Regions from separate parts of the Homo sapiens genome. Here regions 1 and 2 are each linked to region 3. The links come from fine-mapping of genetic effects on gene expression. A gene starts in region 3. Each other region holds a variant in brackets. All regions are shown on one strand. Distances are from middle to middle. Region 1 overlaps LOC107987065 (a long non-coding RNA gene). Region 2 holds the start of LOC105376043 (a long non-coding RNA gene). Region 3 holds the start of IGFBPL1 (insulin like growth factor binding protein like 1).

The links.
Region 1: its variant is fine-mapped to the expression of IGFBPL1 in thyroid (GTEx, PIP above 0.99).
Region 2: its variant is fine-mapped to the expression of IGFBPL1 in cerebellum (GTEx, PIP 0.98). The same link has a PIP of 0.9 or more in cerebellar hemisphere.

Annotation. Positions count from the first base shown.
Region 1 is chr9:38,375,548-38,386,251 of GRCh38, forward strand. LOC107987065 (a long non-coding RNA gene) reads left to right here. Exons shown (of 3, transcript XR_001746670.2): 3 at 5,413-5,658. It overlaps LOC105376040 (a long non-coding RNA gene), which reads right to left and starts at 822. Exons shown (of 4, transcript XR_929605.1): 1 at 738-822. RefSeq lists an enhancer at 5,256-6,204. The variant G/A (reference allele first, on the strand shown) is at 5,744.
Region 2 is chr9:38,846,840-38,857,543 of GRCh38, forward strand. It overlaps LOC105376043 (a long non-coding RNA gene), which reads left to right and starts at 1,710. Exons shown (of 4, transcript NR_188596.1): 1 at 1,710-1,836; 2 at 4,400-4,479; 3 at 10,467-10,515. The variant G/A (reference allele first, on the strand shown) is at 5,336.
Region 3 is chr9:38,419,370-38,430,073 of GRCh38, forward strand. It overlaps IGFBPL1 (insulin like growth factor binding protein like 1), which reads right to left and starts at 5,085. Exons shown (of 5, transcript NM_001007563.3): 1 at 4,596-5,085. The coding sequence starts at 5,055. It overlaps LOC105376041 (a long non-coding RNA gene), which reads left to right and starts at 5,242. Exons shown (of 8, transcript XR_007061487.1): 1 at 5,242-5,381; 2 at 7,281-7,394. RefSeq lists an enhancer at 6,130-10,409.

The DNA.
Region 1 (10,704 bases), 44 kb before region 3:
GAGGGGTCCACTTTCTTGCAGAGAAATGGAGAGACAGGAAGGGGGTCCAAGGCAGTCAAGCGCCCCTCAGAGCAAGGAGGACAAGTGCTCTGGGCATAGGGTGGGGGGTCTGGGGGACATATCTGGGTGGGAGCCGAGTGGGCGTGCAAATAAACAGCAGAGCCCATCACTCCCTCGAAGTCCCTGCAGATCCTGCCCACAGCTGCTGACCCCTCACACGCTCTAAGCTCCAGCCACCGCCTTCTGCCCAGTCCCCCGCCCCTACCGTGCACTTCCTACCCCAGGCCTTTGCTCCCACTGCTCCCAGGCTGGGGCTGATTCTCTCTCCTCCATCCTCCATCCTCAACCAATACGGATGGGGGCCTGTGTATGTCCTTGAGTGTGCTGGTCACCTTCCGTGGCTCTCATTCTTTTAGTCCTTATCATGACTCTGAGAGTTGAGTATTGTTATCCCTAATTTACAGACCAGGAAATTGAGCCTCAGAAAAATTAGGTTTTTAAATGTTAGGATCACAAAAGATTAAGTGGAGAAGTGAGATGAGACCCCAGGTCTTTAAGCTTGAAATTCAATGTTCTTTTGAATATACACTTCACCATCCTGCTTTTCATGTGAAAAATATGCCAAACCTTAGGATCTCATGTATATGCATGAGATGGCGGCTCCATCTCTCTTTTCTCCCCACCCCCCTCCTTTCTCTCTCTCTCTCTCTCTCTCTCTCTACCACCCCTTCTCCTACCTTGTGAGGACACAGCAAGAAGGGGAGAAGGCAGTCATCTGGAAACGAGGAAGACAGCCCTCACCAGAAACTGACACTGTTGGACCTCGATCTTGGACTTGCAGCCTCTAGAATTGCAAGAAAATAAATTTAAGCTGTGGACTCTGTTATTTAAGCTCTCTAGTGTGTGGTATGTTGTTATGGCAGCCTGAGCGGATAAGACTTCCTTTCAACAACAGAGGAGAGTGGGCCTGCAGCAGGGGTCGGGGTCGGGGTCAGGGTCAGGGTCAGGGTACCGGGGAAAATCCCCGGGGCCCCTCGTCAAGGAGGCAGACTCCAAGATCCACCCCTCTGGATTCCAAGTGGGCATGTCTGAGGATGAGCCTCAAGTCCTCATGATTTTGAGAGGCGATCTCTGACCACCCTCTGAGTACTGCTGGCCCAGAGGGTCCTCATGGTCCCTTCTGCACCTCACCCTCAATGTCAGTGAAGCCCAATGATAAGCCACATCACTTGTCCCAGCAAATTCTTCATTTTCAGACATCAGTTCATTCTAAGTCATCCTCTTTTGGCCTTGTTTAATATTAGAACATGGGAATGCAGAGATCAGTGGCTGAAAATAAGCTGAACATTTTTAAAAGAGAAAATGAATCTCTGCACACTTCCGGAAAGTGGAAAAAAGTGCTCTGAGTTACTGAAAAGTTGGCAAAGTGCCTCATTGGAGGGACTAAAAATTACCAATACTAGAAAAGAGACTGAAAGTATCTCTTGTAATAGCTACCTATTGCTGCCTAATAGATTGTCCCCAACTTAGCAACTTTAAACAACAATTTCTGAGCATCAGGATCCAGGAGTGGCTTAGCTGGCTGGTTCTGGCTCAGGGTCTCTCGTGGGATTTGGATCAAGCTGTCAGCCAGGGCTGCAGCCACCCGAAGCTTTGCCTGGCCTGGAGGACCCACTTCCAAGTGCACGCAAGGGGATGCTGGCAGCCTGGAGGGAGGCCTCCATTCCTGGCCAGGTGGGCCTCTCCAGACTCACATGGCAGCTTGCTTCCCGGAGTGAGAGATCAGAGAAAAAAGCCCAAGATGGGCCTCAATCTTTCATCATCTAATCTTGGATAGGACATACCACTGAGAGGTGACAGCCTGCTGGCAGCCCTCACAGCCCTCACTCGCTCTGGGCGCCTCCTCGGCCTTGGCGCCCACTCTGGCCGCCCTTGAGGAGCCCTTCAGCCCGCCGCTGCACCGTGGGAGCCCCCTTCTGGGCTGGCCAAGGCCAGAGCCGGCTCCCTCAGCTTGCAGGGAGGTGTGGAGGAAGAGGCGCGGGTGAGAACCGGGGCTGCGTGCTGCGCGCTTGCGGGCCAGCGGGAGTTCCGGGTGGGCGTGGGCTCGGCGGGCCCCGCACTCGGAGGCCCCGTGGCCCGCAAGCCCCGGGCAGTGAGGGGCTTAGCACCTGGGCCAGCAGCTGCGCTCGACTTCTCGCCTGGCCTTAGCTGCCTCCCCTCGGGGCAGGGCTGTGGACCTGCAGCCCACCATGCGTGAGCCTCCTCCACCCCTCCATGGGCTCCTGCGCAGCCGGAGCCTCCCTGACGAGCAACGCCCCCTGCTCCACAGCGCCCAGTCCCATCGACCACCCAAGGGCTGAGGAGTGCGGGCGCACGGCTGGGACTGGCAGGCAGCTCCACCTGCGGCACCAGTATGAGTGGGATCCACTGGGTGAAGCCAACTGGGCTCCTGAGTCTGGTGGGGACTTGGAGAACATTTATGTCTAGCTAAGGGATTGTAAATACACCAATCGGCACTCTGTATCTAGCTCAAGGTTTGTAAACACACCAATCAGCACCCTGTGTCTAGCTCAGGGTTTGTGAATGCACCAATTGACACTCTGTATCTAGCTACTCTGGTGGGGACTTGGAGAACCTTCGTGTGGACACTCTGTATCTAGCTAATCTAGTGGGGAGGTGGAGAACTTTTGTGTCTAGCTCAGAGATTGTAAAGGCACCAATCAGCACCCTGTCAAAACGGACCAAGCAGCTTTCTGTAAAATGGACCAATCGGCTCTCTGTAAAATGGACCAATCAGCAGGATGTGGGTGGGGCCAGATAAGAGAATAAAACCAGGCTGCCCGGGCCCACAGTGGCAACTGGCTCGGGTCTTCTTCCATGGTGTGGGTTCCTTGTTCTTTTGCTTTTTGCAATACGTCTTGCTGTTACTCACTCTGGGTCCACACTGCCTTTATGAGCTGTAACACTCACCGCAAAAGTCTGTAGCTTCACTCCTGAAGCCAGTGAGACCACGAACCCAGCAGGAGGAATGAACAACTCCAGAGGCGCTGCCTTAAAAGCTGTAACACTCACTGCGAAGGTCTGCAGCTTCACTCTTGATCCAGCGAGACCACGAACCCACCAAAAGGAAGAAACTCCGAACACATCCGAATGTCAGAAGGAACAAACTCCGGACACGCCACTTTTAAAAACTAACACTCACCGTGAGGGTCCACGGCTTCATTCTTGAAGTCAGTGAGCAAAGAACCCACCAATTCCGGGCACACCACCGCTACATCTACCATATGCTGTTGGTCACACAGACCATCCCTGATACAGTGTGGGAGGGAACCCCACAATGCAGGCAGCTGGGAATACCAGGAGGCAGGGTTCACTGGGAACCATTTGGAGGCTGGCTACAACATTCTTTAAAAAAAAATTTTACTTAGACCAAACTGATATCAACCAACGTGTTTTTGGCCCAATGGCCTTCAGTTAGATCACAGATGGTTATGTGGAACCTGAATGGAGACATTCAGGTCCAACAGTGTCAGTTTCTGGTGAGGGCTGTCTTCCTCGTTTTCAGATGACTGCCTTCTCCCTTTCTTGCTGTGTCCTCACAAAGTAGAAGAAGAGATGGGAGAGAGAGAAGGAAGGGGGGTGGGGAGAAAAGGGAGGGGGAAATTTGACACAGAAGAAGGAGGTGACAATGTAACACTAGCAAGACGAGAGGGGAAGGAGCTATGAAATAAGGAATCCAAGAAAAACAGCTTTAGAAATTGAGAAAGGCAAGGAAATGTCTTCTCTCCTGGAGCCTCAGAAAGGAGCAGGGCCCTGCTGATGCCTTGAATTTGGCCCAGTGAAACTGATTTCACACTTCTGACTTCTAGAACTGCAAGAGATTGGTTGTGTGTGGGGGGTGGGGGGGAGGGGTTGGTTTTTGGTTTTTGTTTTTGAGTCAAGAGTATCACTCTGTTGCCTAGGCTGGAGTGCAGTGGCTCGATCTTGGCTCACTGCAACCTCTGCCTCCCGGGTTCAGGCAATTCTCCTGACTCAGCCTCCTGAGTAGCTGGGACTACAGGCGTGCACCACCACGCCTGGCTAATTTTTGTATTTTTAGTAGAGATGAGGTTTCCCCATGTTGGCCTGGCTGGTCTCAAACTTCTGGCCCCAAGTGATCCACCTGCCTCCACCTCCCAAAGTGCTGGGATTGCAGGTGTGAGCCACTGCACCTTTCCTTGGACGTGTGTGTTTTGAACTGGAAATTTGTAGCAATTGTTACAGCAACAATAGCAAAGGAATACCCTGCATCATATCCATTTGGTACCATCAGGAGAGTTTAGAGCAGGAAAGAAAGCACACCTGTGGTCCCAGAGCTGCATGTACTAGAGGTTTCAGGCTCACAGAAGATGATGTTAAGGGGAGCAGATACTTTTTGCAGGGTAATGAGTTGCACTGATTTCCAGCATGCTCAGGTGAGGCCTAGTGGAGTCAGACCTCCCGGGGTAGAATCCACCACTCACTGGCCATGTAACCTTGAGCAAATTCTGCAACCCCATCGTCTCAACGCTGGCTACATATTAGAATCACCTGGAGCACCTCAAATTATACCCATGGCTAAGGCCTACCCTGAGAATTCAAGTTGGCCTCAGGAGAGGGGCTTAGGCACCAGTACTTTTTATTTTAATCTTGTTTTTAATGGACCTTCAAGAATCAGACCAGAATCAGTACTTATTAATATAAGGCCCCAGATGATTCTAATATGTAGCCAGCACCAAGCACCACCCCTATCTCTCTAAATCTGTTTCCTCCTCTAAAATAGAAATCAGTGTTAGGTTACCCCACGTGGGTGTGATGAGCCTCAAGTAAGGTAATCCCTGTAAAGTGAGTAGGACATAGTAAACCACCAATTCATTACTGTGACTCACGACTGACTCCCTGTGGATGTGCAGTGGTCCTTTTCCCTCTTGGGTCTCAGTATCCCCACCTGTACCTGGATCATCTTTCAGTGCCTCCTGCTATATCCCCTCTTATGAATAGAAAGATTCAGTAGATCACTTACTCAGTGACCTTTTCAGGTGCACTAAAACCAAGCATTTCACACCTTAGGGAGACACAAGGCAGGATCTAATCAGAACTCTGCATCCCTCGGGCTTGGTTTAGGGATTCTAGTGCCACATTCAAAGCACAGAACAGGCGCCTGGGCCAATGTCACCTTGGTAAGTGTCTGCCTCCCAGCGTGCCTTAAGGTTGCAGGAAATTGCCTATTTACACGTATTCTGCTCTGACAGGCACACCAGAATTTTAAAATCCTCCTTCAGGTTTCTCACAGATAAGATGGGGAACTTTGTTTACTATGGATTCCAGGGCTTCCTGAAGAGGAGGCCTTTGAGTTTTCGAAAATAATTGCTTTTCCTCTCCTGTGCTCTCCAGGGGTGGTCTTTGGCCGGAGGAAGAAATGGCTTTGTTGCTCAGGAGAGCTTTGGGAATGGAACTCAGGGGCTTCCAAAGAGCAGCAATCAGGAAAACAAGCAGGGAGGATCCAGGTTTTGCAAGGCCTGAAGCCTGCACACTAGGGAGCCCCATGCTCTGTGAAGGAGAGAACAGTGATAAGAAGAAGATAATGATTCAGCAGCTTTGCAAACATTGTTTGGTGAATAAACAGCCCCGTTCAGTGCACCGGTTTCTTCCTCCCATCATGGGACAGGTGGAATGTGATCTGAGATGCCAGCCTTGGTCAGCTGGAGGGTTGTTCAGCTGCCTC[G/A]TGACTCCTCCTCGGTAAGAGTGAAAGAGCCTTTCATTCCCTAAATAAACATGTCTATTAGAGGCATTGATCTGTCCCCAGCAGGCAGTAATTGCACCTCAAATGCCACAGATGCACAGCCTGGGGTTCTACTCCACCCCGCCCTGCCCTGCCCTGCCAGTCTCCCTGCCTGGCCTGGGACGGACCCTGACCCTCCTTGGGGTTCAGGCTCTTCTTCTGTACAGAGTCACAAGGCTGTTAATTCATATTCTTCCCATCACAGGGATGAACCCCTCTGGCTCAGTCATAAATGATAATATAAGACTCGTTTTCCATGGAAAAGCCCTAGTACAGCCATACGGGTACTTTAATACAAAATGCTCACCTACCAGTTTGTAAGCAGCCCCTCTCTGAGCCCCTAGGTGCCACCTCCACTCTGTCCTCACGGCCCTTGGCCTGGGACCCCCTGAACTTCCGCATGACTCACCATGGCCAACCAGATCACAAGGGTTAGGGTTAGGGTGAGCACAGAATTACAGCCAGGCTTTGTGCCCATGCTCCATTCCTCAGTATATCAAATCTCACCCCTGGGCCTGGGCTGGGGCCCCTGCACAGGCTCCAGCCCTTCTTAGCCTAGAGAGAGGCTTCTTGAGGAGATTCTCCCATCCTTTAACAGCAGAATCCAGCCTGCCTGGATTCACTGAACAGGAGTGCAGCTGGGAGTGGAGCCATTTCTGAGCCGGTGAGCCCTGATCTGTCTGCTTCTACCTTCATTTCTAACAGGTATTTCTGGCCCAAGAAGTTGGGCCTGGGAGGACAGACCCAGCCCAACCATCCTCCTGTGAAGGACCCTTCGTGACGGGGTGGAGGCCACACTCTCTGGCTCCTGCTCCTGATCACTTTCCTTCCCGTTCCTCATGAACATGTCCAGGCATCAGCCCAGGGGCAGATCTAGGAAAGCCTGGAGCCACCGGGCCCCTTGGAGCTTCCTCAGGGGCCACCAGAGGGTGGGGGCCCGGTAAGCAGCTCCCTTGCACCTGGCTTAGTCTGTAATCTAGTGCAATCCCTTCACCGTGAGGATAATTGGGCCCAGAGGGCTCATGGTGAGTCAGACAGCCTGGGGTCCAGTCCCCAGCTGGGGGCTTTGCCCACAGCACCTTGTGCCCTCTCTCCTTTGTGGGTCTATCCTCGTCCTCACACACGTTGTCTCTCTGTTCCAGGGAAGGAGTATTCCATGGCCCATAATCCGTGTGAACAGATAGACAACGGGAAGCATCTTTGTTATTCCAACACTGGGGCAATTTCTTTCACCAACCCGTAGCAGAGGCCTTAATGAGGCTTCAGTCTAGCTGAAAAGGTTGTCCAAACCCCACACGTAGCACCAGGTGAGCCATAACTAAGACTGGACTATATGTGGGCTCTCACTTTGGACCCTATCCAGACCTTCCCACTCACTCCCTGTGGGATCTACAGAAGTCTTTCCCTTCTCTGGACCTTAGTCTCCTCATCTATACAATGGTGATGTTGGACCAGAAATTCTAAGGACCCCCTTTCTCCTGATCTGTTCCTGATTCTATAAGGCCAGGGGTGGGAACAACCATCCTGGAATCCTCTCAGGAAAAAGCTGCTCAGGCAGGGTGCAGTGGCTCACGCACTTTGGGAGGCTGAGGCGGGCAGATCATTTGAGGTCAGGAGTTTGAAACCAGCCTGGCCAACATGGCGAAACCCCGTCTCTACTAAAAATACAAAAATTAGCTGGGCATGGTGGCATGCATGTGTAATCCCAGCTACTTGGGAGGCTGAGGCACGAGAACACTTGAACCCAGGAGGCGGAGGCCACAGTGAACCGAGATGGTGCCACTTCACTCCAGCCTGGGTGACAGAGCAACACTCTGTCTCAAAAATAAAAAAGAAAGGGCTGCTCTTCCTTGATGACTCACTGAGGTACACCTATGGTGGGACCTTTAGAATCAGATTTGGAGAGGGGAGACAGTGCAAAGTCAGTCACCTCCACTAGCTTGCCTAGTGCTTTTAAGAGTGTGGCATTCCAATCCATCACATTCCTGGAAAATAGTCAACCCTCTGCAAAAATAATTTGTGCATTTTACCTTCAGCTACTGCACGTTGGTTCTTCTCTCCAAACCATAAATGTCAAGCACTGTGGAAGGTTTTCTTTTTATTACTTTTTATTTTTGAGGGGGTAAATACCTTGCAACAGGACCACTTTGGTGAGTTCTGATGCCAGTCACAGCTTAGAAAGTGTCAAGGTAGTCATGCTGGATAGAATCTAGACACAACACATTTGCAGGCGAAGTCACTTTCTGGAAATAACCATGACGGAGTCAAAGACTCCTCAGAAACCACTTAGGCCAGTGCTTCCCAAATATGGTTATATATCAGAAGCATATGAGAAACTTGGCCAGGTGCAGTGGCTCATGCCTGTAATTCCAGCACTTTGGGAGGCTGAGCGGGGTGAATCACTTGAGGTCAGGAATTTGAGACCAGCCTGGTCAACATGGTGAAACCCCGTCTCTACTAAAAATACAAAAATTAGCCGGGCGTGGTGGCATGCGCCTGTAGTCCCAGCTACTCAGGAGGCTGAGGCAGGAGAATTGCTTGAATTGGGGAGGCAGGGGTTGCTCTTCCTTGACGACTCACTGAGGCACACCTATGGGGGGACCTTTAGAATCAGATTATCAGATTTGGAGAGGGGAGACAGTGCAAAGTCAGTCACCTCCACTAGCTTGCCTAGTGCTTTTATGAGTGTGGAATTCCAAGCCAAGCTTTGCAATTGCAGATGCACCACTTACCAGTGAGTAATTTTCTCTTTCTGAACCTCAGTGTCCTTATCTGTCAACCAGAGCCAGTAATCTTTTCCTCATAGCAGAGTTGGAGGGGTCTGTGACAGAACCTCCTAGTTAGCCCCCAGTGTCTCTCTTCCCACCAAGCCACAGAAATGAAAGCCCCAATATTCTGACCACCCTAAAGACTCTATTTCCCAGCATGCCTTGCAGATAGTTGTACCATGTAGGTAAGTTCTGGCCAATGGGATATAAATGGAGTTGTTTGGGGGTTAGCTTTGGGGAGCCTTCCTCTAAAGCCAGAGGCATGCACACTTTGCCCTTTTGTCTTCTTCATTCCCACCCGCCTTCTGATCCCTAGAATGTAGATGTGGTGGCTGCCATTTGGGATCATGAAGACAGTTTCCCCTGCTAGGGGTGACCAGTGGGAATTGGAAGGGGTCCACCTCCTTGAGCATCATTGAGCCACCTCCCTCACCTGCTTCCCTCTGGGCTTCCTTTACTTTTTTAGAGAAATCAACTCCCATCTTATGTAAGCCATTTTTATACGAGTCTCTGTTACTCAGAGCTGAACTTACTCCTCACTCACTGCCATAGGATCTGAGGAAATCAAGTGGTTCTCATCTAACCAAGTCACCCTTATGCCTTAAATCCCTCTGATACTGACAGGAGGCAGCCAAATGCCTAGGCAGATAGGAGTGGTCCCCAGTGAAATCCCACCTCCAAGCCAAAGACAGTTCAAAGCCTAAAAGCCAAGCTACAAGTTAGATCCTTGGACCAGACTGAGAACCTGTCTTCCCATTTGGCACACCTTCCTCTGACTGATCACACCCTTCACCTATTTTACACAAGCCTACCCTTTTCTAATTGGTTTTCTACACTCTCATGCCCTCCTTTGGGTGGTGTCTTCGCTTTAACCTTTTTTGCATGCTCACAAACCAATTAACACGCATTCCCCATTCTGAGTCCATAAAAAGCCCCAGACCCAGCCACACTGAGGAGAGAAACCACCCAGCTGCAGGGCTGGGGGACCAATTCCCACATCCCCTCTCTGCTGACAGCTGTTCTATTGTTCAATAAAATTCTTCTCTGCCCATCCTCACCCTTCTACTGTCAGCATGTCCTCATTCTTCTTGGATGTGAGACAAGAGCTCAAGAACTGCTGAACACAGGTACAAGCTATAACACAGGTGGGACAAGTGGGTAGGGTGTCTCTAACGGCAGGCCTGGGACCCAGAGAGGCCCAGGCAAGGGGGACATCGCTGACCAGAGGTCCCAGCTGGCAAAGTGACTGAGAAGCATCCTGTGTCACTTCTGTGCCTCCTCAGGATACATCCAAACTCCTTAGCAAGGCACTTCAGGCCTTTCATGATCTTGGCATGATCTATGGCTCCAGACTTGGCTCTCAATGGCCCCCACTTATCCCATCACAGCCCAGGCACCAGCCAGGAGGAGGTTCTTACTGCACCCAAAGCCACAGGGCTCCCTCTCATTTCTGACCTTTGGCACATGCAGCTCTGTCTTCCAGAAATGCTGTTTCTCCCCTTGATTCAGCTTTCAAGAATCAGGTCAAGCATCAGCTCCTCCAAGAAGCCTCCCCTGACCTTCCCAGGCTTTGTGTAGTTGTTTTGTCCCATTTCCTGTTTCTCTGCTCTCTTGGCACCACTCTCTGGGTTCTCTTTCTCACACTGTGTGAGGGAAACATGCCAGTCTCCATGTCTGTCTGCCTCCCCAGTCTGTGAGTTGCCAGAGGACAGGTATGATGTCTTATTTGTCTCCACACGGCAGGGCCTGGCATAGGTGGGTCAGCAGTAACAGGAGCTGAGTGAAAGAAGGAATGATGAGTGGCAGATGCTTGCTGATGTGGACACTGCTGGGCCTGACAAGGGACTGTGCTGGGGAAACTGTCTTTGAACCAGAAAGAACTAGCTAGAGACAGAGAGGCAAAGTGGAAAGCAAGGGTAATCAGCGCTCACTGCAGCTCCCATACTCTGGTCACCTAGGCATCAGCCCTGTGGATCCAAAAAGCCTTTGCGCCCTCCTTGGCAGATCTGCCCTGCTGTCATGGATGGTAGGGCAGCATTTCAGGCTCGCTCCATCAGCAAGTGTATGAAGATACACTGGGTCCCTGCCAATACTTTGTACTTCAACCATTGCCTTATAGTGGCCCATAACCAGCCA
Region 2 (10,704 bases), 430 kb after region 3:
GGACAGGCAGGCCCTTCATCCCCCGGGCAGAGCTGAGCTTGTTCTTGTCACATTTAACCTCAGTCCTCTGATAAAGCCAGAACATACAATGTTTTTATCTGCCCATTCAGAATCATGTAAGTGCAGGTTTTTTTAAGTAATTATGAGGGTGAGTGAGACTTTCACTGTAATGTTTGGTAAGTAATGAGGTGATTCAGTTTTATGTCCATCTTGATTTGAGGAAGAGAGAATGGTGAGGGAAGCATTGGGACAGGTTCATCTGGAACCACAGACACTTAAATGTAGACAAGCCTTTAATGATGCCTGGTCCTCGCTTCCTCCCAAATGCAGGTATGTATTACATCTCTGTTGGCTGTTCCCCTAGAATCAGCTGTAGCTTTTCCAGTGGCCAGGAGCCCTGGTCCCCGTTACCGTTGCGAGGCTGTCTTGCATTATTGGGCACTTTGAATGCTTAAAACTGGGCTTCTGGAAAAAGAGTCAGATTCACCTGGATCTGGATCTGGCAGGTGAATGTCACAGTCTCTAACGACCTCCTAATTCCTGTCTTCTCTCTTTCCTTCCTTTTTTTTTTTTTTGAGACGGAGTCTCCCTCTGTCGCCCAGGCTGGAGTGCAGTGGCACGATCTTGGCTCACTGCAAGCTCTGCCTCCCGGGTTCATGCCATTCTCCTGCCTTAGCCTCCCGAGTAGCTGGGACTACAGGTGCCCGCCACCACGCTCGGCTAATTTTTTCATATTTTTAGTAGAGATGGGGTTTCACCATGTTAGCCAGGATGGTCTCCATCTCCTGACTTCGTGATCCACCCACCTCGGCCTCCCAAAGCGCTGGGATTACAGGCGTGAGCCACCACGCCCGGCCTGTCTTTCCTTCTTTTAATCTTTCTACACATGAAAAGGCGTCAGTAGCCCCCACCATCCTGTATGTCACCTGGGACACCCTCAGTCTGCCTTTGTTAATGTCAGAGCCAGGAACTCAGGGAAAAAACTATTTTCTGAGATACGTTTTTGTGCAGAGAGAAGAGACTTTCCATGTATATTGCCTTTCCTGTAATATTGTCTGTTCAGGTAGCTGTGTGCCATATCCAGGTAGCTGCATGCCCTCTTCCCTGTTTTAGCACTGGTTGATACTGAGTTTATGGTTAATTAGTAAATGTGTTAAAAAATTTTTTGAATTTTTTTTCAAAAATCAGCAAGCACAAATATGTACCTAGCATTTTCCAAGGATATGGGTATGGAAAGATAAAATGCCAGAACTTACAATTTAATTAGATATTAGTGCAAATGATCGATACACTGCAATGTGGTAACTGTGTAACAGATATTAATTGCACCATCCAAAATTCAGTATGTTAAAAATGGAACTCTTCAGGTTATCATAGGAATGTTGCTTGACTCTTATGCCCAGGGCAGACTGTGAAGCATCCATTCCCCTAAATCCAGGGCAGTCAGGTAAGGGGCCTTCTTATCTCAGCCACTTCTCCACTTCCAGCCCAGACTCTTGCTGTATTAACCTCTGTTTCTCCGACACAGCAGACCCGGAGACTTTTTAACCTCCTTTTTTTGTGACTCCTCCCCACTCTACCACAAGTAGGGTTGCAAGATTTAGAAAATGAATATTTAAGACACTCAGTTAAATTTGGATTTTAGATAAATGACAAATACTGTTAATTAGTATAAGTATGTCCCAAATATTGCATTGCATTTTATTGTATTTTTTTTTGTAGCAGCCGTACCCTCAAGAAGTGCACCTTCCAACCACCCTTATATGAGCCTGCTCCAAAACCTTGCCAGCCAGCACTTCCAGGTTACGACTATTGACCTCCAGCTCCCAGTTTCAGGTGAGAGGTGAGACCCAGTCCCACACTAGCATGTCATCTTCGTGGAATCCCAAAAGAGACAATATATAGAGGACAGGATTTTTTTTTTTTTTTTTTTTTTTTTTTGAGACGGAGTCTTGCTCTATCGCCCAGGCTGTACTGCAGTGGCGCGATTCTTGGCTCACTGCAAGCTCCACCTCCTGGGTTCACGCCATTCTCCTGCCTCAGTCTCCTGAGTAGCTGGGACTACAGGCGCCCGCCACCACACCCCGCTGATTTTTTGTATTTTTGGTAGAGACGGGGTTTCACCGTGTTAGCCAGGATGGTCTCTATCTCCTGACCTTGTGATCCGCCCGCCTCGGCCTCCCAAAGTGCTAGGATTACAGGTGTGAACACCGAGCCCGACCAAGGTACGGCCTTTTTAAAGCCCCCTCCCCTGCTTCACACCCAGCAATGCGCCTGCTTTAAGGGTGTCCTTGTTTTTGACAAACTCACAATCTCCGCCTCCACAGGTTTCGGGCGCCCCTGGTGGTTGCACTTTGCCAGTAGCTTATGGCAACCCACCAGGTTTGCTGATGCTGGACTGGCATTTACCTGTCAAAGTAATTTAAACCATAAGATTTATTTCCAAATAGGGGGGGAAACAGATAAAATGGGAGAAGGGCATGGTTGTGGGTTTGGACTAATCAGAACAAGATTCTAAATTTTTATAAAGAGAGGAGATGGTACTGCAGGAAAGCCCTGTGAGTCTCCCCTGCAAAATACCCACCTAGACCTGTTTTTGTTGGTGGTTGTGTGTATGCCTTCTGAAACAGTGTGTCTCCACAGCCAAACATGTGCTGGGATGCAGGAGATGCTTAGGCCACCTTGATCAGTGATGTCTGAGGCTTCCCCAGGCTGGTTAATTCACAGCCTCCCTCCTTTATGCTCCCCCAGATTCTCTTTCATTTAGATTGTGTTGACTCAGCTCAGGGGATGAATATATGTATTTGCCAACATTATTGAGTTTGCTAATTAAAAAGCACTGAAAAAAAACTTACTTTCCCTCTGCGTTTGGTGACTTTTACCCCTAGAACTCTTCTTCTTAGGAAGCCTATGACAATGAAGATACTATAAAAACAAGGGTCTTTCCAATTCCCTTCTGCTGTGTCGTGGAGCGAACACTCAACCTGGAGTCTAACGTTCTTAATTTCTGTCCCAGATCTTTACTGGCTGGGTCTCTGCACACTTCTCAGTCTCCTAGAGTCTTCAGGTTACTCAATCAAAAAATGTTCTAAACTAGTTGTTATAAGAGTGCTGAACACATTGGCTGGTTCACTCACACAATAGATTTGCCTGACAACTGTTCACTAAACTGTATATCTTAGTGCAGTATGTGGATTTAACTGGTGGTGTTGCTGATGTGTCAAAATTTTGAGCACGTTCCAGCTTTTCATTGTTGTTATTTTCCATCTTCCATTACTTTGAAGGGAACATGTTACAGGACACAAAGAAATACTAAACTTGCAAAGCATATGAATAATAGCAAATGTGATTATTATTTATTTACTTATAAAAAGATGATAGATTACTTCATGTTCTGCTTAAAGCTACTTTTTGCATTTGGACCATTTTGAGTAGCCCATATTCTGCCAAAAATTATAATTATAAAATTAGTGAATCACGCAGAAAACATTGGAACTAAATTATTGACACGGCTTTGGAAAGGTGATATCCAATCTTATATGCAAATTCCAGTTGTCTTCCATTACTCTTGGGATCTTTCAGCAGATTTTTGCCATCTGTGTAGAAGCTGTTATTGAATTTTCTTGCTGAGATTATATAATTTCTATTCAGAGAATTAAATTCCCCATTACACTGTATTTTGTTTCTCTACAATATAAATGGAAAATTATGTAACAGGGAATTTATACATTTGTTTTGCACCTGTGGTATTTAAAATGTGGCAGGCATTTAGAGCTGTCATAAAGACCCAGGCCGAAAATGCTTTATTGCATATGATTATCCTTCTCTTACTACTTTTGAAAAGGAATGAAATACAGCCATTTTAATATTCATGTGTTCCATCCAAACAGAGGACTGAATAATAAAAGTGGATAACTTATATTTGCTTCCATTACAAATAGTTTTATCTTGCCATCTTCAGTCATTGTTTTCGGCTTGCATTGTGATACTATGAAGTGGATCAGAAAATATACTTCCTGAGTGCTACTTGTTAAACAAGTGTATGAAATGTGCTTGACCCTGCTCTGTGCAGTAGAGCATTTCAGACTAATCACAAACTACTGAGTGGAGTCAAAGCAGCAGCTCAGACTGCTTTCTCTGCAAAAACTGGAGATAAAGTGTTGGTTAGAATATAACGTTTAGCTTCTCATGTTGTAACTAATGGTAGGCCTGGTGGAGTGGTTAAAATATAATGAATCCAGTACCAATGGATTCCAGAAGTATTTGATACCCATCTAATATAACGCTGCTCAAAACATTTTGATGGGTCTCTAGGGTCTAATGAATAAACTTCCAACCTTAGTCTGGTCCTTGTTATCCGACTTATGCTGTTTCTTTCTTTCTTTTTTTTTTTTTTCAGAGAGTTCTCCCAGTCTCCTGGATCACACTGGTCTGAAAGCTGTTTGGTAGACAACCTTCGAGTCTTTCTGCCTTCATACTGTGGGTATACCGTTCTCCCAACTGAAAACCCGTTTATTTTCTTATCTGTCTACTCAAAGCCTAACCAACACCAAATGGCCTAGAAATGCCACGTACCTACCAGTTGCCTCTTTCCTCCTCCAGCCCTTGTGAATGTGAATTCACATCTCTGTTCTCTGTGTTCCTTGGCCACTTAGTACCATTCACAATATCTCTCATAGCTAGCTCTCTGCCTTAGGGCTGGCCCATGGGACTAAAATTCCTTGTGGTAGGTATTTTTTTTTCATATTTCTATTCTTATAGCATCTAGCATAGAACAAACAGCCTAGTATCTAGTGGGTATCCAATAACAACTTATGCAGGTGATTAGGCAAGAAAAAGAAATAAAGCCTATTCAAATTGGAAAGGTGGAAGTCAAATTGTCCCTATTTGCTGGCAACATAATCTTATATATAGAAGAACTTAAACACTCTGCCAAAAATCCATTAGATGTGATAAACAATTCAGTAAGGTTGTATTGTATGTATCAAAACATCCCTATGTAACCCATAGAGATGTATAATTATTTTATGTTGATCAAAAATAAAATAATAAAAGCTCTTAATAAAACAGTCATCTCTTTCAGAATTCATGGTTACCATTGCCTCTAGTATTATTTGTCAATTAAAAAATAAAATTTAAAAAGAATTTAAAGAGTTGAATGCAGTTTAAAAATGCATGCAGGCCGGGTGCGGTGGCTCACGCCTGTAATCCCAGCACTTTGGGAGGCTGAGGTGGGCGGATCGCGAGGTCAGGAGATCGCGACCATCCTGGCTAACATGGTGAAACCCCATCTCAACTAAAAATACAAAAAAATTAGCCAGGCATGGTCACAGGC[G/A]CCTGTAGTCCCAGCTACTCGGGAGGCTGAGGCAGGAGAATGGCATGAACCTGGGGGGCAGAGCTTGCAGTGAGAGGAGATCGCGCCACTGCACTCCAGCCTGGGCGACAGAGCGAGACTCCGTCTCAAAAAAAAAAAAGCATGCAAGTAAGGAAGGATCGTGTGAGGGTAAGGGTGCAAGTGCAGCTTTAAAGATATTAGTAAGAGAAAAGAAGAGGGCGTATAGTGCATGCTGTGACATGGGATGACAGCTTGCACTGAGAGAGCATGGATCTATATTTTTACTATATTATACTCTGTAATTGAACATTTCAGCTTATTTGGATTGTATTAAGCCACTTTATTATTTGAATGCTCACAATTTCCTTCTAATTTCAAACTTGTTTGTGGACCTGTAAAAAAATTCTTTTTTTAAATGCATCTGTTTAATGACACAGGACACTTTTCATTTATGCATGGTACACTGGTAGCCCAATCTGAAAGTACTATTTTCTACACTAAACTTTTTTTTTTTTTGAGCCAGAATCTTGCTCTGTTGCCAAGCTGGAGTGCAGTGGCGCAATCTCGGCTCACTGCAACCTCCACCTCCTTGGGTTCAAGAGATTCTTCTGCCACAGCCTCCCGAGTAGCTGGGACTACACACCTGCGCCACCACACCCAGCTAATTTTTGTAATTTTAGTAGAGACAGGGTTTCACCATGTTGGCCAGGATGGTCTCAATCTCTTGACCTCGTGACCTGCCCGCCTCAGCCTCCCAAAGTGCTAGGATTACAGGCGTGAGCCACTGCGCCTGGCCTAAACTATTTTTAAAAAGAAGTAACAGCATGCCTCTACTTATGTAAAAGCAAACATATGTTTTGACGGTGGTGAAGTTGGCTTCTGTTAACCCAACTTCTAAAGAACTAAATTGGCCAAAAGAGGAAAAAAAATGCTTATTTTATTAAATTTAAATTTAGTAAATGCTTATTTACTACATTGACTTGAGGATTTCAGACAAATAGCTTAGTTAGTGGTTAGATCAAGAGGCTTTATAGAAGAAAAGCTTAATGGTGCTTATTTATAAAATGAAAAAATTAGTAGTTCTTGGCCCTGCCTCATCTGTTTCTCAAATTTGTTGGTTATGAAAGATCTGACTGAAATCCACACCATCTGGCTTTTAGTGCTGGGATCCCAGCACAGGCCAGTTTAGCCATCTGCTTCTGTCTCTGACGCCACATACAACAGAGAGTCTTTTGTCATTGTTGTTGTTGTTGTTGTTGTTGTTGTTGTTTTGAGATGAAGTCTTGCTCTGTCTCCCAGGCTGGAGTGCAGTGGCACGATCTCGGCTCACTGCAAGCTCTGCCTCCTGAGTTCACGCCATTCTCCTGCCTCAGCCTCCTGAGTAGCTGGGACTGCAGGCGCCCGCCACCACGCCCGGCTAATTTTTTGTATTTTTAGTAGACACGGGGTTTCACCGTGTTAGCCAGGATGGTCTCGATCTCCTGACCTCGTGATCTACCCGCCTCGGCCTCCCAAAGTGCTCGGATCGCACCCAGCCCAGAGCTGCATTTTCATACACCATTGAAATCAGTGAACCCTCACCGTGTGATGAGAATGCTGGATGAAATTTTATGCTGAGTGAGGGAACAATCTGTTGAAAATAAAGGTTAGAAATGTGTAGTGTCCTATCGTGTCAGTGCCACAAAAAAGATGGGGAGTCCTGCCACATGGTGGAATGGTGCCACATAAGTCAGAGCAGGAAGCGAGTGCAGAAGGACCCAAGTGACTGGAGAGATGATTGCAAATGCAACAGAAATTCTAGGGTTCATCGGATGCTGTGGCTATGCTTAAGAAACCAGCCACTCAGCTAAGAAAACAACAGTGAGAAATAACACCGTTACAGTGGATTTATTTCTCTGCTTAAATGACTGCCTTGCAGAAGAGCTGTGATCTTTTGATATTTTTTGGCAAACAGCATCAAAAACAAGATATATGGAATCAACCAACAGATCATGTATCACTGTGCTTGTACTGGTAAAACTCCGTGTACTTACTCCACGTCTACCGTAGTAGATTGAGAGATGGTCATCCAAAGATCTCAGATTCTAATCCCTGGGACTGGGAAGTGTTCCCTTGTTTGGCAAAAGAGTCTTTGTAGACGTGATTAAGTTAGGGATCTTGGCATGAGGGGACGAACCTTCTTTATTCAGGTGGCCTTGAATTATGATCACAAGTGTCCTTATAAAAGAGAGGCAAAGGGAGAAAGCACAGAAAGGAGAGGAGGAACTTAAGTGCCCATGGAGGCAGAGACCGCAGTAATGCAGCCACAAGTTAGGGACGCCAACAGAAGATGGGAGGGGCAAAGAACCAGTCCACCCCCGTAGACTCCAGGAAAAGTGTGGTCTTGCCAACACATTGATTTTGGAATTCTGGCCTCTAGAACTATGAAAGTATAAATTTCTGTTATTTTAAGCAGCCCAGCTGTGATACTTTGTTAAGCAGCCACAGGGACTAATACCCCTACTATGTGCCACTCACTGTGCCAGTCCTGGGGAAGATTTAGGCTGGAAAAGCATGGCCTTTGCAGCATTTTTCCCCCACCAGTGCTGAGACAATATGTTGAAAAGACTGGGAAAATGTTATAATGTATTCAAAATACCAGATGAGAGCTTTCTGTGTACCTGTCACTATGCTCAGCTCCAGAGATGGGATATGAACAAAATAGGCCCAATTCTCTTCCCTCTGTGCCGAACTTACTTTCTGTTAAGTACAAAATAGGGCTTAATGCTATGAAAATGAAGAGGAGTGACAACATTGATGTCAACCAGGAGGATCAGGGCAGATTTTAAATATGATGTGGCTGCAGCAAGAGTGTGTGCGCATGGGAACAGGCATTCCAAACGAAGGAATCACTGCTAATACAGCTGCAAAGTCTGCAGTGCCTTTGGGAAGCCTTGACAAGATGAACGTGTCAGAGAGCAGGCATTCAGTCTTTAACACAGCCTTTCCACATCGGCCTATAAAATTGTATTATGATGTTTCTTCATTTGGAAAACTAGTTTTAAAGGTTGCATTTTGATGAGTTTGCAACATTCAATTTCATGGAATCCAAATCGCATGCCCTTTGGAAGAGGTGCCATATGTGAATGCACCCATAAAGTGCACGCATGCAGCGTTTGTTACGTGGTAGGATCTCATGCAATTTTAAATGACTCTCATGTTAAAAAATGCTTCTATTGGCAGGGGGTGGTGGCTTACACCTGTAATCCAAGCACTTTGGGAGGCCAAGGCAGGTGGATCACCTGAGGTCAGGAGTTTGAGACCAGCCTGGCCAACATGGTGAAACCCCGTCTCTACCAAAAATACAAAAATTAGCTGGGCATGGTGGTGGGCACCTGTAATCCCAGCTATTTGGGAGGCTGAGGCAAGAGAATGTCTTGAACCCAGTAGTTGGAGGTTGCAGTGAGCCAACTTCGTGCCATTGTACTCCAGCCTGAGCAACAAGAGCAAAACTCCATCTCAAAGAAAAAAAAATGCTTCTATCACTCTTAGCCTTGTTTTACTTCATACTCTGGTGGTGGGCAGGTTTGCTACCTTAAATACGTCCTAGAAGCTGAATCCAAATACTTTTTGAACAATTTTCTGACTTCCTTTAGAGAAATGTACTGTCAGAGTACTATGTATAATTTTTTAAATACAGCTACCCTGAAGACTTATAAAAGTCTGGTTGTTCAGGCAGTAATTTATTTACAAATTCATGAAAATGAAAACAGTTTATGCAAGCAACCAGCTCTGGGATGCCTCATCGTCCTTTGCAAAATTATCCAAATCATGATGAAATAGGCTTTATTTTTATGGATTAAACAGAGAAGAATGTCTAATGAATTGTCTAGAAATTGAAATACGCACCTTTTATGAATAGGGACATTTCATAAGACCATTCTGTATTGTGAGTTAGGAATTCAGATCAGTTGAAGCATTAAAAAAATCAAACCTTCTGCAGCTCATTAAAGCATAAACCTAATTTTTAGAATTTATCCGACTAATATAGTAAGACCTCCACCTGCTTAGAATAATATTAATACTTGGCCTCATTTACCTCCAAGAGGGGGATAGGCCCCTGACCAATCTTCCCATTTCACCGAGGACAGACACTTCCCTTGAATCAGGTGGAGGTTTTCCAGTCATATTTGCAACACTGTTTAATGCTCAATTGCCCTATTTCTTTCCTCTGTGAAGTGAATACAATAACTTAAATGAAGGTTGTTTGAAACTCCTACTATTGGGTAGGAGTTTGCAACCTGGTTACTATGATCAGAGCTATAATTTTTTTGTTTATTATAATTAGGTTTTTTGCAAGACTAAAATTGTGCTTCTTTTAAAGTGCTGAAGAATTTCCAGGCTTGTCAGCACTAATACGTATTCTAATTGCAAAAACAGACACGAATATCAACCCAGGTGCATAGACCTCATAGTGTCAATCAAATCTCATCAGAAACTACTTGTCTTGCAGGAGGAAGGGGATCCTAAAATCTTTTTTTTTTAAGGGAAATTTTTTATCAATTTGTATTCTTTATGTCCTTTCATATTGCCGTTTACCATAAATGAAAACCATGAGAGGAACTTTTAATAATAATACACATCTGATTATGCTTTTATGAATATACAGAACATTAAATTTCAAAAGGCTTTGCTTGAGTCCCAAATGCAATTTCTAAAACATTAACTAGCCTACTCAGAATCAGGTAGAAATGGTGCAAATGAGCTCTTTTTATCACAGGCATTATTTCTTGAATAAACTCTTTTTTGTTTCCTAAACTTCAAAAAAACTGTAATTTTATTTTCAACATTCATGAAGGATAAGTCAAATCCTGTCAGTGAGTGAGTCCAACGGTTTCCATGAAAGGAGGATGTGGTCACTTTCATGAAGAAGCCAACTGAGGAAGGCTTTTTCTTGGTTCAATCATTTGATGTAATGATTCAGATGAAAGCACGTAAGTTAGCCTTTCTTTATACCTGCTTCATAAAGTTTGAGACTGCTAAATTACCAAGATAGGACAGTAACATAAGATTATCTTCTTCATAGCATACATCACTATTTAAAATTATTTTATATATTTACTTATCTGTTATTTTCTGTCTTGCCCACTAGGATATATTGTCCATGAGATCTTGTCCTGTGAAGTCTTTCCTGGCACATAGTAAGTGCTCAATAATTGTTGCATAAAGGTGAATAAACCAATAAATGAAAGAACTTTTGCACATATTTGTATGTTACTTGTAACACATTTTGTAATTTGTCTGTTAATACTGCCTTCTCCCTTTTCTCTGACATCTTTGCAAAGGAAGTTATCTAGGGCAAAATAAATTGCAATATAAACTGTCATTAA
Region 3 (10,704 bases):
CTCAGCATGAAAGGGTTTTGAGCACAAACCCCCTTCTTTGTCCCTCTCACGAAGTGGCATGCGCTGCCTCTCCTGGTTACCTGGTAACACACACTAGCACAGACCTAGGTTTCTAAGTGGAGCTGGAATTTCAACCAAGGTGAATTTTCTAAGATTCAGGGTCTCAGGAGCTCACCGAAGCTGCCAGGGCTCAATGCCCTGGCGGGTGCTGGCCGGGACCCTGTTCCTATCTAATTTATCATTTGAAACATGACATTAACTTGCTGTCCGTAGGACCCCAACCCTCTCCCAATGCTAACAAATAGGGTGCACACACTGAACTATCCAGCCTTTAAAGTAATGAGAGCAATAATAATCATCATAATACTAAGGCCATACCACCTTACCAGTGAGAAGCTGAACCAATAATTCAGAATGTATCGAAGACCCACGTATGAATAATTCTTACTGTTGGAAATTGCTTTTGCATCCTTCTTCTTCCTTCTCCTCCTCCCCCTCCTCCTCCTCCTCCTCCTCCTCCTCCTTCTTCTTCTTCTTTTTAGACAGGGTCTCACTCTGTCTCCTAGGCGGAGTACAGTGGCATGATCATAGCTCACTGTAGCCTCGAACTCCTGGGCTCAAGAAATCCTCCTGCCTCAGCCTCCCAAGTAGCTGGGACTACAGGCACATGCCATCATGTCCAGCTAGTTTTTAGAATTTTTTGTAGAGATGGGATCTTGCTGCGTTGCCCAGGCTATCCTTGAACTCCTGGCCTCAAGCAATCCTTCCACCTCAGCCTCCCAAAGTGCAGAATGAAGCTTCCCCCTTCGGCCTTGCACCCAAGGCTTGCAGTGGCCTACCCCAAACTACTCTGGGGTGTCATCTCCTTTCCCAACCATCCTACCAGGCCTCGGCCCTATGGGCCCACTTGCACACCCACCAAAGGGCTCCCACCTCTGAGCCTCAGTTCATGCTGTGCCTCCCCCTTGCTAGCATTGGGATTCTCTCCCCATCCTTCAAGGCTTCTCTCAGGAGCTATAGCCCAGTGCTAAATAGAGGGACAAGTGACAAACCTTGGGAAAAACAGGAAGGTGGACCCAGATTGAGAAACCCCCAAGATTCAAGGCTGGCGGGTGCACAGCACCTTACTGATCAGGTTGCTAGCGGCTAGCTGTGCAGCGCCCATCTGAAAATAGCGAGGCAGGCCAGGCATGGTGGCGCACGCCTGTAATCCCAGCACTTTGGGAGGCCGAGGCGGGCAGATCATGAGGTAGGAGATCAAGACCATCCTGACTAACACAGTGAAACCCCGTCTCTACTAAAAGTACAAAAAACAAAATTAGCCAGGCGTGGTGGTGGGCGCCTGTAGTCCCAGCTACTCTGGAGGCTGAGGCAGGAGAATGGCGTGAACCCAGGAGGTGGAGCTTGCAGTGAGCCAAGATCACACCACTGCACTCCAGCCTGGGTGACAGAGTGAGACTCTGTCTCAAAACAAAACAAAACAAAACAGCCAGGCAAACCTACACTGGAGCCCTTTCACAGCTGGGACCAGCCAGGTGGCTCCAGGGAATTTCCTTCCATGTGCCTCAGCTTTCCCTTCTATCAAATGGGAAGGAGACCTCCCCAGGACACTTGTAAAAATCATGTAAAAAGATGGGTGCAGCCCAGGGATGGTATCTCATGTCTGTAATTTCAGCACTTTGGGAGGCTGAGGTGGGAGGAGTGCTTGAGGCCAGGAGTTCAAGAACAGCCTGGGAAACACAGTAAGATCCTGTCTCTACAAAAAATTCTAAAAATCAGCTGGGCATGATGGTATGTGCCTATAGTCCCAGCTACTTGGGAGGCTGAGGCAGGAGGATTCCTTGAGCCCAGGATCACAGTGGGCTGTGATCAAGCCATTGTATTCCACCTGGGAGATACAGTGAGACCCTGTCTCAAAAAAAAAAAAAAAAAAAAAGGATGCAAAAGCAATTTCCAACAGTAAGAATTATTCATATGTGAGTCTTCCATACATGTGTGCGGATCAAAGGATCACTCTCATTATGTGGCAGTTTGGGGCATTTCAGGGCATAGGAGGAAAGGGCAGAATTTAAGCCTGAAAACTGCTTCCCCAGGCTCCTCAGAGGCATGTATAAGGGCCCTTCACACACTGTGAACAACATAATAAATACTTCCCGAGGCCTCATTCCATGAAATCTAGGTGCTTGGGTACCCAAGGAGTCAGGAGGGGTGATTTTATCATGAATATTGAAGCAGAACAGCCCTGCTCTGACTCACAGTCTGTTTTCCTTCAACCGGGATCCCCAGAGGCATTGTTAAAAAACGCTCCCGCTGTGTCTTGTGAATAAAAGATGGCTTTAGGGCAGCACAGAATGAGCTGCTGCCTGGGCTAGGAAACATCCCCTGTCCAAACCTTCATGCTTTATCTGGACACAAGGGCAGAGGCCACACTAGCACTTCAGGACAGAGAGTGACAGGCAAACAGTGCCCGGTTCTGTGGTGGATGACACAAAGGCTGGTGCGGAAGAAGGGCTGAACCCCGGGGAGGCCTGACGCCTGTCAGTAATGAGATCATGAAAACCAGTTCTGAGTTGCTTCCATGTGGCCCCACGAATATCTTTATTCCCTGGGTCTGTGCCTGGGGTGGGCCTCAGATCCCATAGATCAGAGTGAAGGGGCTGTCACATTTACTTGTCATTTGGTAATTTTCAGTGAATTAGGGGTATGGAGTTTCCATCTGCCATCTGGCCTCACTCTGGTAACCATGGTAACCACCATCTGCCTGACTTAATACTATTAAGTCCTGTGCCAAAAGAGCACTGGACAGGGTGTTGGGACCAGGGAGCTGGTCATCCTTTACTGGTCACCCTGGACAAGGGCTCTGACCTTGCTGTGTCTCAGTCTCTTTCTCTGTATAACAGCAGATTTGGTCTGAATGTCTTTAAGGTGCCTTTCTCTTAGGAAGAGAATGCCACTCTGGGGAGAAATTATCTGAGATCATCAGCAGCATTTATAGTCTGAGGACCTGGTCAGCATTTCTTCTGTCTCCTGCATGTGGAGTTAAAAGTGTTACCTGTCTGGAGACAAAGAGAATTGCCTGTGAATTAACGGCTGAGGAAAGCAGTTATAAAAACGAGTGATAGGAACTAGCAAAAGGAAAGAGACAGGACTGTTTAAGTGCCACAGGGCGGAAACCAACTGTTCCGAGTGAAAGGGACCTCAACAATGACTCCACTGGGGCTGATATGGCCAGAGAGGGGAAGGGACCCGTCCAGGGCCACTCAGGGAGCCAGCGGCAGCACAGATGCACCCCCAGCCAGCTCTGTCCTCCATGGGGAGCTTCAGCTAGGAACAGCCAATGGTGACTTTCCTGTGCTCAACTGGCCACACACTGGTTTTACATTTCCCAGGACTGGAGGCTTCCTGCCCCATCTCCAACAACCCATTGCGTCTCCTGGACTTGGGTACATCTACCTGAACTACTTGAGAGGAAAGACTACTAGATACTTCTTAAGGCTTGGAAAGGTCTCACCCCACCCCAGGCTTCTTTCTTGAAGCTAAGTCATTACACTGACTTAGGCACTAAAGTCTGGACTTGGTCTCTGGGCTCAGGCCAGAATTATTTCCCAGAAGCCTGAACTCCAGGCCGAAACCCAGGCTCCTTGGGACTCACTGGCCACCTTCTCACTCACCCTAAACTCAGCACTGCCCACTCCAGGCAAAGTACACAGCGGCACTTCAAAACCTAGTGGGTGGAATACACTCATGCTTAGGAAGCCGGTAAAGCAGTGCTAACGTTTTGGTTTCTTTTTGTTTGGTTTTCAAAAGGTACATAAAGAGGGTGGGCAACTATAGCACTCAGAGATTATTTTACTGTGATGTTAATGAAGCTTAAGTTTCTAAGTCCCTAGCATTTCATAATAAGTTTCTAAGTCCCTAGCAGTTCTATTCCTTTACTTAAGGCAGGACTCTCCAAATTATATATGTTTTAGAAGCACGAAACCTGAGTCTGCCCCTAATAGCACCACAATCTTTTCAGACCTTACGTCTCCAAAGGTCTTACTTCTCCTGGATGGAGCTCCCTCAGCATCCCAGCTCAGCCCCTTCCCACACCGGGGGCCCTGGTGCTCTGGTGCTGTGGCCTGGTGACTACTGATTCCCCAGTCTGGAACTCATCCTCCTCCTGCATCCTCAACTTCCCTTCCTCCCCTATCCTCTACTTCCCTTCCTCCCCCAACCTCAACTTCCCTTCCTCCCCATTCAAACAATCCACCTAGCGCTGGATACCTGGGAACTCGGATCCCCCTCCTTAACTCCCAGTCTCCTGCTGGGCAAACATACCATGCCTACAAATAAGTGACTGCATCAGCAGGTACTTAAGTACCAAAAGGGGTAGCAGGCTCACCAAAAATTCGACTAGCACAGTGAGTGGCGTCTCCAAGGATTCTCGCCCCAGTCTCTCTGAGCACGAGGAGAGATATGAAATACTGCTCCCTAAGGGGAAACTGAGTGCCAGGCAGCGCCGTCCACCACTGGGCAGGGGGATCCTTCGCTCCACACCCCAGAGGGTTGGAATCCCTCCTTCTCTACCCACCCAATCCCCGACCCTGACTCACCGAACTCGCAAGGGCCGTCGCGCGCCTTGTGCAGGTGACCGGGGTGCGCGCGGGGCGTGTGCCGAGCGCGCAGGCGCAGCGCGCAGACGCTGGGGTACGAGCGACCGTCGGAGCCGCAGACGGTGCCGCGCTGCGCGCACACGCAGAGCCCGGTGCCCTCGGGCGCTGCCCCAGCGGCCTGGCTCGCGCATACCAGGCCGGGGCCACAGCGCCCGCCGGCGCGGCCCCCGCAGCTCGCGCCCTCGGCTCCCAGGCAGCGGGCGCAGCAGCCGCACTCGTCGAGCGCCGAGATCCCGGGCGCCGGGCAGGGCGCAGGCGCCGGGCAGCCCTCTGGCCGGCACGGACCACACTTGGGGCGCCGGCCGCCCACGTCGCGGATCCCAAGGCTCGGGGACAGCGGCGGCAGCAGCGGCAGCAGCAGCAGAAGCAGCAGCGGCAAGAGCAGAGACAAGCGCGGCATGGCTTGCTCCGGGACAGCGGCGGCGCCTCTGCTTCGCGCTCCGCTCCGCGCCCGCCGAGCAGTCACCGCTCCCGCCCCGCGGCCGCTGATTGGCCGGGCCTGCACCGCGGGGCGCCCGCAGACCGCTGCTCCAGCCCGGGACCCGCGCGGTGCCCGCGGCCCGGGTCTCCGAGCTGGAGGGTCGCCCCGAGAGCAGCTCTCCGACCTCCGATTGGACTCTTGAGGGAACCGAGACCCAGTCGGGGCGACAACTTGCCCGAGGTCGCTATGGCAGAGTCAGGATTGGATAACCGTACGGTCTCCGGATCCAAGGCTGGCTCCAGATAGTATGCCCGTAAATCCTCCCAGAAGGATGCGCTATTTTATTTAATTTTATTTTGCATTCAGTAGTTTTCAAAGTTTTATTTTATAAAGAGAATATATGGTTTAAAATGTAGATTTTACATATACATCTAAGGATGAAAAGAGGGTTACCCTACCACCTTGTATCCCCATCCTCCAACTCGGCTTCCAGAGGCCACTCTTGCTATCGGGTTTTTGTATATCTTTTCAGAAATTTTCTCTATGCCTATAAAAGTACATGTGCCTAAAAAAGCCCCTTCCTTTAAAACACACACACTCTGTTTCTCTCTCACACACACAGAGTAGCGTGCCATACACATTAGTCTGCACTTGGTTTTTGCACTTACAGTGTTTCACAGTTTCCCCACCTCTTGTCATCTGTGAAACTGGGTTTCTTATACAATCAATGGGAGCATAGTTCATTGGCTCTGTGAGTGTGTTTCTTAATGCTGCATAAAGTCATGGTACATCTCCGTCCACAGTGACTTTGTTGTGATGAGATATGGTGATATATTTTGGAGTTCATACAGAGTGGCCTTTCCACAGGGTTTAGTTGCAGTTATTTAACCACTTATTTTCCATCCTTTGGTTAATACGAATAATGCTTTGATGAAGTCTTGGTGCACAAGGGTCAGTGTACCTGTGGCTTACTGGGGAATGCATGTTGGAAAGATGCAGTTTCTTGTAGTCAGTTATTCATGCCGCCGTTGCGCCTTCTCTGGGCCAGGCTCTGTGCACACCATCCTGCCTGAGTTCTGGCAGGGCACCCAGACGAGAAACCTAAGAGAGTCTTGGCTGCTGGGATTTGATGTGTTGCTGGGTAAATGCACTGGATGGAGGGAGGGACTCGCTGAGCAGGTTTTATAGGAGACTTTTCCTGCCTTTACTGGCCACCCCTCATGTGTCTTGTGCTCTATTGTTTTTTCTTTGCTGAACTCCTGGAGATGGAGAAAGCCTCTTGCAGCCTGGGAAGACCAGCTACACCGTTCTTGGGTGGGGTTCATTTTGCTTTTCAAGCCCAGTTCCTTCCCAGTTTGCAGTCTTCTTATCCCCAGAAAGGAGCCTCTTCTGAGGCCACTTTATGTGGTGGTCAGAGGAGGGCCATCTGCCTGGTCCACGCCAGGCCTTACCTTACAATCAGCCACACAGAGCAGGGGCGGTTAGGCACCATGAAGGGGTGGTGGTAAGGAATAAATATAACAATGTTGGTAATGCACTCAGCGCAGCTCTCAGAACCTATCAACAGTGACTTTCAACCTGGAGGCTGCTGTCTTTACCAGGAGTGGCCTTTTAAAGTGCTCTCACCGCTTGACCCCTCTGTGCTCTTCCAGGAATCTCTCCTAAAAAAATGATCACTATGTGTGAAGATTTCATCCTGGAGTTGGTTACTATAGCAAAAAATAAATAAATAAATAAAATAAAAATAAAAAAAGTTAACGACCTAAATGCCCACCGAGAGGCAATCGTTAAATAAATTATGGTACATCTAACAATAGAGGATTATGCAGGCATTAACAATTAGAAAGAAAATATGGGTTAATAGAAATGAAAACATGTTTATAATACATTGTTTAGTAAAATAGCGGTTAAAAAGTGCACATCTAATGTAATGGCATATTTGTAAATATGTGAATGTGTAAACATGCAAAAATTTAAGATTGTTTTTAATGATGTGAAGGAAACCCTTTTTTTAAAAAAAAAAAAAAAAAGAGATGGTACCTCATTCTGCTGCCCAGGTTGGAGTGCAATGTCATGATCATAGCTCACTGCAGCCTCAAACTCCTGAGCCTCAAGCCGTCCTCCCCCACTCAGCCTCCTGAGTATCTAGGACTATAGGTGAGCACCACCACGCCTGGCTAATTTAAACAATTTTTTTTTTTCAGAGATGGGGTCTCACTATGAGAAGGAAACACTTATAATGTTAAATGAACAAAGCAGGATTTGCAAACAAAAGAGATAAGCGAACTCCATGCTGCTTTTCAGGGACAACTTTGCTGGTAAGTTCAGACTTTCTAATGGTTCATAGTTGTCCAAAGAGAGATCAGGCTGCTCCAGAGATAGTGAGGTCCTTGTCAAAGAAGGAGTTTAAGAATGAGTCTTGGCAAGGAGCATGGAGGGGGTCAGAAGTAGGGGTCAGGGGAGTTGACGTTTGATTACCTCAAACTGAGCCACCATTCCTGTAGTACAGTGCCCGACCCTGAGACCTGGACTGGACAAAACATGGTCATGATTGAGAAATAAATGTGTACAGAAATGATTTGCCTGCTTTTTATGCAGACATTAAAGGAGGAGTAAGTGAACGGTGTCATAATGAAATTAATGTGTGCTTAATGCAGGTTAGGATACACAATCTCACAGAGGCGCATTTACATATGATCTACATTCCTTTTAAATGGTAGGGAGAGTACTATGTATGCATAACGACTCTTTGAGAATTAAATCAGAAGACTCATTTTCCAACACTGAGCCTGTGGCATCAAAGCCCCTGTATCTGGGTGGAGAAAACATTCCCAAGCTTTGAAGGTGATCAGTCATGTCTATTTCCTTTTAAAATTGCCTGCAAGCCCATAGCCCAGCAGAGGCATTTGTGCTCTTTCATCTCTCTGGTTCCCAGAGTACCAGTTAACACTGTGGGCCACACCTGTGGGCCCCCTAAGATGATAGGAGAAAGTAGGGACAAATTCTCCCAGTCGGGAAGGGGGGTTGAGGTGCCTCTGTTGTCTGGCAGGTGGAGAGATCCCATGCACCTGGGTAAGTAATTAGGCAACAAGAATGGGTGTGATTTTCTTCCTCTTCAGCCTCCAGCCTGAAAACAAACACAACACAGGGAAGACTAGCCAATCCCCCATTCAGAGCAGATGTGTGCCCACCCGGCAGCTGCTGAAGTGGGTATGAATGTCCCATCCATTAATTCCTCCCTTGAACGTAGAGATAAATGGCAGATATTCTCTGTCCTTGGGGAGCTTCCAGCACAGAGGAAGAGAATAGAAGCTCAGTTGAGCAAAGGCCACTCCATAAATAGGCCATGGATTTGAACCTCAAGCTTTAATAGTCAGGGCAATCATAGATAGTCTTCTCCAAGCTAAAGGAAGGTGAAAGCCCTTTCTCCAGACCTCTGGTGGGCGATTACAGAGCAGAAGGCAAGGTGAATTTCTAGAGGGAAGTTCCATAAATGACAGATGGGATTTTTAGGGAGACAGATTTCACTTCAATATTGCATGCAAGGGGATGTAGCAAGATGTAGAACTCTGCAAAGATGGGAATTCAGATACTGAGCAGACGAAAAAGAATGGTAGAGGATTTGCTGTTCTGCTGTAAACCACTATATAACTTGGACAAATTAAAGAAAACAGCTATGGACAGGCACTGGACAGTGTTCTAATACAGGGCTGTGATCCTTGAGAGCGTCAGGGGGTACACAATGTGAGCCCCACATCTACCCAAGCATTCTCCCTGGGGACACTTTCCAGGCCACTCTGCAGGGAGGTGGAGGCCAAGTGGTCTCACTGGACAGAAGAGGTAGACATCAGAATTCAGGAGTAAGGCAGAGATTTGGGGATCTAGGACAGAAAATGAGGAACCACAGAGAGGGAATCCCACAAGTCTTAGACCTTTGGCTGACCCTGTACTGCACAAGTACAGGGCAAGACTTGAGGGAGGCTGCTGGGAGGTGAGAGCTGAGCAGAGATTTGGGGCTCACACAGTGCTGATAAGATTTTAGAGTTCAGGCCCACCCAGAATGAACTGCCCCAGCCCCCCTGGGGTTCTTTCTCCAAGCTCAGTGACACTAGCATCAGCCTAGTGGCACACCCTGCAGAGGTCTCAGTTTGAGCTCCAAGGACCCCTCTTATACGCATCTAAGTTTTAGTCATTCCAGCCATTTCCATTGTTCTCCTAGCCCTCATGGTGGTAGCTGCTTCACAGTTGCTACCTCCAAGTTGCCTAGTTAATAATTCCTCTTCTTCTTCTTTTTTTTGAGACAGGGTCTGGCTCTGTCGCCCAGGCTGGAATGCAGTAGCACGATATTGGTTTACTGCAACTTCTGCCTCTTGTGCTCAAACCATCCTCCTGCCTCAGCCTCCTGAGTAGCTGGGACTACAGGCATTTGCCACTATGCCTGGCTAAATTTTTGTATTTTTTTTGTAGAGACAGGGTTTTGCCATGTTGTCGATCCCAGTCTTGAACTCCTGAACTCAAGTGATCCGCCCACCTCAGCCTCCCAAAGTGCTCAGATTACAGGCATGAGCCACTGTGCCCAGCCAATAATTCTTTTTTTTTTTTTAATTATTATTTTTTGAGACGGAGTCTCACTCTGTCACCCAGGATGGAGTGCAGTGGCATTATCTTGGCTCACTGCGACCTCCACCTCCTGAGTTCAAGCGATTCTCCTGCCTCAGCCTCTCGAGTAGCTGGGACTACAGGTGCATGCTGTCACGCCCAGCTAATTTTTGTATTTTTAGTAGAGACAGGGTTTCGCCATGTTGGTCAGGCTGGTCTCGAACTCCTGACCTCAGGTGATCCACGTGCCTCGGCCTCCCAAAGTGCTGGGATTAGAGGCGTGAGCCACCATGCCTGGCCCAATAATTCTTTATATTACATTCCATTTGTAGGCTTGGCACAGTGGCTCATGCCTGTAATCCCTGTACCTCCCAAGGTTTGTGGGGAGGATTGTGTCAGGACTTCAACAGCCTGGGCAACATAGTGAGACCTCTTTTCTACTAGCAAAAACATGTAAAGTTTGCTGGGCATGGTGGTACATGCCTCCAGCTACCCAGGAGGCTGAGGTAGGGGGATCACTTGAGCCTTGAAGTTCAAGACTGCAGTGAGCTGTGATCAAGCCACTGCACTCCAGCCTGGGGAACAGAGCTGTTGCATGCCTGAAAAAGAAAAAAAGAGAAATGAATTCTATTTGTCATCTGACTAGGTAGGCCTGAGTGATCTAGCTAATAGAACCAGGAGTGGTCCCAGGAAACAACTGTCAAAGATGGGTCACAATCAGAGAACTAGAAAGCTTAACTATAAATATGCTTCAATAATCATACAAATTATTTATTTAAATGATAAATAAGAATACATTTCTTGCAGCTACAGGGTCAGTATTGCTGAAAATGACACAAAAAATGTAATTGTGTGTGTTGCATAATTATAAGTTGAATTCACAGGCTTTCCAGTCTCTTATGTGAAAGTTAGGGAATGAGAACCTGAGACTTGGAATGGAGAAATCTGGGTGGACTCAGATGAAGCTGAGAATCCTGAACCCTTGAGTCATTCTGAGCTTCCTTTGCCAATGGAAGCAGCTTGCCTGTC